Linked DNA regions of Homo sapiens. The protein of the gene in region 1 purifies or fractionates together with the protein of each later gene. This does not show direct contact. Each region holds a gene or a part of one and is shown in the gene's direction. Other genes may lie near its edges.

What was found. The genes of interacting proteins can lie anywhere in the genome.
Region 2: the proteins of TRIM61 (region 1) and VXN purify together in Homo sapiens (affinity purification with mass spectrometry; one large-scale study listed by BioGRID and IntAct). This does not show direct contact.

The regions. Positions count from the first base shown.
Region 1 is NC_000004.12:164,971,220-164,974,657, reverse strand, and holds part of TRIM61 (putative tripartite motif-containing protein 61), read left to right. Parts: intron 1-3,438.
Region 2 is NC_000008.11:66,492,328-66,496,365, forward strand, and holds the start of VXN (vexin), read left to right. Parts: upstream 1-1,238; 5' UTR 1,239-1,321; coding exon 1,322-1,391; intron 1,392-4,038. UniProt on the Homo sapiens protein: Required for neurogenesis in the neural plate and retina. Strongly cooperates with neural bHLH factors to promote neurogenesis.

The DNA.
Region 1 (3,438 bases):
TCCACCCAGCTTGGCCTCCCAAAGTTCTGGGATTACAGCCCTGAAGCCACGACTCCCGGCCATTATTCTATGTTTTCTGTAGTGTTGTGTTAGAATTTTTCACAAGTTAAATGTACTCTCATCCCTGGATATACAATATACACAGGGCATTGGTTCCAGGGCACCCGAAGATACCAAAATCCATGAATGCTCAAGACCAGTGGATGCAGGTTCTGCATCCCAGGAATACTGTATTTTCGATTCTATCTGAAGTTAATTGTGTTAGTGGATGCTGAACTTGCCAATATGGAGGGCTATTTAAAATAAAGGATGTATTTTAAAATTCTAAAACTTCTGTCTTACTCCAAAATTAGTATAGGAAAATTCTCTGAAGCACACCACTACTACAGTGAGCCCTTGGAAGTTACTGCCTTTACTAATCATTTCAGGACTAGCAACCTTATAAGCCATAACAGCTTTTAGGTGAAATGTCAATGTGCTGCTTTTTTGAGACAGAGCCTTGCTCTGTTGCTCAGGCTGGAGTGCAGTGGCACGATCTCTACTCACTGCAACCTCTGCCTCCAGGGTTCAAGCAATTCTCCCGCTGCAGCCTTCCAAGTAGCTGGAATTACTGGCATGCGCCACCACTGCCAGCTAATTTTTGTATTTTCAGGAGAGACAAGGTTTTACCATGTTGGCCAGGCTGGTTCTCGAACTGCTGACCTCAAGTGATCCACTGCCTTGGCCTCCCAAAGTGCTGGGATTACAGGTGTGAGCCACCACGCCTGGCCCAATGTGTTTTATATGTAAGTAAATATAGGTTATCTCTATATATGTATGTATTACATATAATACATCAACTATAATATGCTATAATAGAAGTATGTGGATTCAGCTAAATTTGTATGACCTCTTGAGAGATTTTCTGAGATAGTCCTACAATATTTTTTATTGTACATGGGTTAAATGCCAAGGACTGTGACAGGTGTCTTAGATAATTTATTCATTTATGCTTAAAACCTGAGACAGTATTATTTCCTACTTTCTGAAAAGTGAAACTCAGAGAAATTAACTTGACCAAGTACATGTAGCTAGCTAAGTGTTAGAGTTGGATGAAAACCCAATTCTGTTAGGTATTGTTAGCTCTCAGTTTGTATTTTATCTCTTTTCTCCATTGTAGTGTTGGATCAGTAAGCCCATTTTTCCCTTTTAAAATATTTGGGATACATTATTAAATATGAACAACTGAACATATCAAATATGAAAAATCTAAGTTGATTTGATATATAGAGGGCTGCATAGGATGCCGTGCGAGTGTAAAGAAGGAGCAGTACAACTTAGTGATTATCATGCCAGTGGTTATGCCAATTAGCGTAATGTTGGATAAGCATGTTCAAATTCTTGTAGACTCCGCTTTTACAGCTCTAGGCTTTTATAGCTCTAATTGAGGATAATAGCTCCTAACTTACGGAGTTGTTCTGATGGTTTAATTGAACCTGTGACTATATGGAAGATCCTTAGCATAGTGCCTGACATATAATAAATTATCCTTGAGAACATGTGTCTTGGGCTGAGTCTCTAGAAGGACCAAAACTTAGTCCTAGGGAAGAAGTGAGGGTAGGGTAATCTAAGCAGAAAGTGGTTTGTGCAGAAGAGGGAAAGCATGATACCTGTGTTTGTTTGTTTGTTTTCGTTAAGTACTTTAGGAGACTGTAGCCAGATGAAGATAATGAAATACGAAGGGTTCTGAATGGCGAGCTAAGGGTGAAAAACTTTGTCCTGACTTGTGGGGAGTTATAAACAGATTGTTATGAGGGGAAACAACATTTAATTTGTTTAAAAAGTGAAGGCCTGAGGGACAAGTTAAATGATATCAAGAAGCAATAGACATGTCAGGTGCGGTGGCTAATGCCTGTAATCCCAGCACTTTGGGAGGCCAAGGTGGGCCGATCACTTGGAGTCCAGAGTTCAAGACCAGCCTGGACAACATGGCGAAACCCTGTCTCCACTAAAGTTACAAACCTTAGCCGGGTGTGGTGGCGCACGCCTGTAGGCCCAGCTACTCAAGAGGCTGAGGCAGGAGAATCACTTGAACCCGGGAGGTGGAGGCTGCAGTGAGCCAAGATTGTGCCACTGCACTCAAGCCTGGGCCACAGAACAAGGCTCCACACACACACACAAAGCAATAGGCAAATCTTGAATTTGGGGTAGTCTAGGACAAAGGTGGAGGCAGGGAACATTATTCTAGATTGAAAAAGATTTAAAAGAACTAATAAGCAAATGCAATACATGGCTCTTGTTTGGATCCAGATTCTAATACATCTAACAGAAAGCTCCTTTGGTCGAGAAGAATTAGCTACAACTTACATGATATTCTTATAAGAAAAAGAGGTTGTTATACTTCCCATTTTACAGGTCAAAGAAATGCGATTCAAAAAAAGACACATCGATTTTCTAAAGATACACAGTCAATAGCTGAGCCAGGATTCAAACCTGGTGTCCTCTCAATAATGTTAGTGCTTACATTGTGAAATACTGCCTCCTGTAGCATGTTGCTGTGATAGCTTTTGCTTGTGCAGTCCTAGGACACTGAATTAAAACTTTAAGTTTGGGAATAATGGATAAATGGTGACTTTCTAGGGCTACTGCATATTTTCCTATTCTGCTAGTCTAAAGAGAATGTATAGTAAAAGAACTTGCTAGGTCACCAAGACAGAGCCAGTTTCACATGTCAAAACCATGCACATACTATTACTGTCACTGTCGTTGGGTTATGAGGAAAGTGAGAGGAAGAAGAAGAGTTAAGAAAGTGTCTAGGGAAAGGAGGTGAAGGGGAAAAAATACTGTATTGATGGTTAGGTGGCTTTCAAGCTTTGATGGAGGAATTTGACTTGCTTAAAATCGGGTACCTGTGGGTGTCTTGAAAGCAAGCCAGGAAGTTTTTCTGCCTCACTTTTGTTTTGAAAGTGTCAAACTTACAGAAAGATTGAAAGGGTATGCATCCTTATACTTTTTCCCTGGATTCACCCCTGTTGTTAACTTTTGCTACATTCATGTTTTCTCTATTTACACTTTTTTTTTTTTTTTTGAGACAGAGTTTCCCTCTGTCACCCAGGCTGGAGTGCGATGGTACGATCTCCACTCACCACAACCTCCTCCTCTCGGGTTCAAGCAATTCTCCTGCCTCAGCCTCCTGAGTAGCTGGGATTATAGGCATGTGCCACCACACCCAGCTAATTCTGTGTTTTTAGTAGAGACGGGGTTTCTCCATGTTATTCAGGCTGGTCTAGAACACCTGACCTCAGGTGATCTGCCCACCTTGGCCTCCCAAAGTGCTGGGATTACAGGCGTGAGCCACCGCACTCGGCTACACATTTTTTTAATTGTTGAACCTTCTGAAAGTTTCAGATGGCTTCCCGCTGTGCATCAGTATATAGATATATCTCCTAACAACAAGGG
Region 2 (4,038 bases), on another chromosome or scaffold:
CTGCAGCTGTAAATCTGATGCATCATTTCAGCCTCCTCTTCCCAAAGTGCCTGGGAACTGGAGGCCTCTGTCTCTGGACCCCTAGTCTCGAGGCATCCTAATCCAGTCCGGCTCAGGGATCATTGTACATGTATCACATATACGATATCATATATACAGATGATATATATGATATCATATAAACACATGATATATATGATATATATACACATGATATATATGATATATACACATGATATATATGATATTATATACACATGATATATATGATATATGGAACAGTATATAACCTGTGACCTCTATATGTAGCATAATAGGATTTATAAGATAATAAATATATAGGATAAATGTATTAGGATATATAGGGTAATACAAATATATATAGGGTAATACAAATATATACATATGCTATATATACATATATCATATATACAAATATATATGATATATATACATACACAAATATATATGATATATATATATACACATACATATATACATATGATATACATACATATATAATAAATATGATATACGGGACAGTATATAATCTGTAACCTGTATATGTAGCATAATAGGGTTTATATAATATATTAGGATATATAGGGTAATACAAATATAACTTTCTATAATTTGCTCCTTGAACATGGGGCACTGCCTGTTGCCATGTCTCTGTGAGCACCTAAGGGTTATACGCGGAGGTACCAAACACAGGACCCTTGAGAAATGTCAGCCTTGTCATGTAATGGCATGAGGGGAAAACACTGGAGAAACAGTCCTTTTGTTTAAAATAGAAACTTCTAAGAGAGCCAAGTTAGCACATGACAAATTACTGAATATCCCGTTCTCCTGGAGGGGAGAAAAAAAAAAAAGCCCCTTCATTTCTGAAATGAGAAAGGGAATTGCTGGTACCAAAATTCACGTTTCCTTTTTGGTGGAAATTCTCCAGCCAAGCTTGGCGCTAACAGAGTAGGCGATTTCACTTCGTCGTCACCTCACAAAAGGCTTCCAAATTCACTGCGGCAGACACCGCAAAATAAAAATGTTAAATACATCCTAGCTGGGAGGGGATTGAAGCCTCCAGGCTCAATCAAAGGTTTGCAATAATAGGATTCATTTAAAAAAAAAAAAAAAAAAAAGGACAGATGGGTTTAGAAAATGTTGCAGTGAAGACTGGAACGAGATGAGCTCATAGCACCAGCCTGTCTTTTGTGGACCCGCACAATGATCCCTGAGCCAGACTGGATTAGGATGCCTCGCGACTAGGGGTCCAGAGACAGAGGCCTCCAGTTCCCAGGCACTTCGGGAAGAGGAGGCTGAAATGATGCATCAGATTTACAGCTGCAGTGACGAGAACATAGAAGTTTTCACCACCGTGATTCCTTCCAAGGGTGAGTGAAATTGCCCTTGACTGTTTCCTTAACGTGGCATCTTAGGCAGGAGGGGAAGGACAGTCACGTGCTGCCTTACTACGGTTTATCCTCAGGTCTCTGGGGTCTGATGGACTCTCGGTTTTGATGGTATTTGATTTTTTGGAGGGGGGAAAGAGGCACAAGGATAAACATCAATCACTGAGAAACAATCCATCAAGGGGAAGGCGAGAGCAGCTAAATACTCCCTGTCTCATTTAATTCAGTACCAACAGTCCAGTACACCAATGGAAGTGACAGCAAGCCATTGCTATGCACACAGGTGAAAACAAAATCCCAGGGTAGCTAGATAGAGACTTTCATTTTTTCCAGTGAGCAAGTGGGTTCTGAAATGAGAACAGCTGGCTTAAAAGTATGATTTCTAACTGTGCCATGCAAAGTGCGGAGAAATACTCCCGGTGGCTGCTTGAAGTCCAGTGAAGCCGTCAGAGAGCGCCCTGACCCTGGGCTGGCTTCTCCACAGAACCCAGGGCCACCTTGCAAACTTAACCCGGAACTAATGCTGCCAGAGAATGCGACACGAGAGTCTTGACTTTATAAGCTCTTGTGGTCCTCAGTGAACGGTGTTAAGGGCTTTGTGTGAGGGTTCTGATGACTCCAAGTGTCTGGTTCCTGGTCAGTCCCCTCAGCCTCTCCTAAGCATGGCCCCCTCTCCTGCCGCCTCTGTTCTCTGCCTGCGCTCCTGTCTTGCCCCCTCCCATCCACCTCCATGACTCAGGCTTAGCCCCTGGTCTCATTGTCAGCCTTGAATGAAGTAGGCTGGGTGTTTGCTGGTGTTGTGAGCCCACATTCAAACAATTCCTTTCTTCCCCTGTGTCAGCCGCTGACAGGGCCATTGCACAGTGGGGCAGGGAGAGATTCCGTTTGGCCACAAAGAGACAGCCTGCAGGACATAAATTAAGCTTTAGACATTTACTGCCAGATCCAGAGAGAGGGAAAAGAGCTGGGAGTCTGCTGCCCACGTGCAGGAGTTGGAATTCCCTCTGGAAACTCTGAAAGTCCAAGTTGACCCTCGGAATCAGCAGTTTCGCTTTTGGGTGGAACTCCTCTTACCCCTGGATGTTCACGGTGGCATTGATTCTAAGAAGGCACAACTGAAAATAACCTGAGTGTCCATGAAGAGGGGAATGGTTAAAATGTGGTGCTGTCATGCTGTGGAATACTATACAATGTCAACAGGAATAAACTAGATGTATGCCTGTGAACATAGGTAGATCTAAGCATAATGCTGAGTGCCAAATAAGCAGGCTGAAAAATTATATATGTAAGATAGCATTTCTGTAAATTTGAAAATATAAACCAATACTATATATTGTTTATGGATATGTATCTAGAGAAAAATACAAAAACATAGACCAGAAAGATACAGATAAAATTAGTGATCTCAGTAGTCTTGGGAAGGTAGGGAAGGAGAATTAGGGAAGGGTAGAAAGAGAACCAAAACATTGCCTCTGATTTTGTATTTCTTGTATATGAGAAGAAAACAAAGTAGAAGGAAATATGAAAATGTTACATGTGTTTATTTTCTATCATTTACTTCCATTTACAAAATTTTTAAAGGAAGAAAAAGTCAAAACGAAGTGGTTAAGAGACTGCTGCCACTTCTGCACTGTGTGACCTTGGGCAAGCTACTTAACCTCTCTGGGCCTGAGTTTCCACTGCTGTAAATGGGAGAAACAACTTATCTTCCAGGATCATATGGGGAATAAATGAGTAAATATATAAAGCATCTAGAACAGTAGCTGGCATGTAGTAAGCACCATTAAATACATCACTTAAAAAGTGATTTCCAATTTTATTTTGTATTTAGAATAATCAACATGATCAGTCAAAGATAAATATTTAATCTTATCTTTTTTCCCTTCCCATTTTCATTCATGGCCACTTCCTTGTGGTACAAGAGTAGCTATCTTGTGAAGTTGCTGTAAAACCTTTTCCCAACCAAGTAACATGTTTAATGGTTAATTTCTTTAAGCTTTTTTATAATTGTGGCAAAATATGCATAACAAAATGTACCATTTTAAAAACTATTTTTAAGTGTACAGGTCAGTGGCATTAAGTCTATTCACATTGTTGTGCAACCATCACCCCCATCCATCCTAGCACTTCTTCATTATCCCAAACTAAAACTCTGAATCCGTTGAACACTAACTCATTCCCCCACTCTTCCAGCCACCAGTAACCACCATTCTACTTTTTGTCCTACAAATTTGGTTTTTTGTCCTTTTGTTTGTTTGTTTTTCTGTCTCTATGAATTTGACTACTCTAGGAACCCCATATTAAGAGGAATTGTAGACTATGTGACATTTTGTGTCCGGCTTATTTCACTTAGTACCATGTTTTCAAGGTTCATCCATGTGTGGCATGTATCAGAATTCCATTCCTTTTCAAGGCTGAGTAATATTCCATCACATACAGACACCATATTTTGTTTATTCATTCATCTGTTGGTGGACATTTGGGTTGTTCCCAAACTTCAGCTCTTGTGAGTAATGCAGCTATGAACTTTGTACTCAAGCCAAGTAACATCTTCAATCGCAACGACCCTGTCTCTTTTTCCCGTCCCCTCCTCTATGCCCCTGCCTCGCCACAGATTCAAACCTTCTCA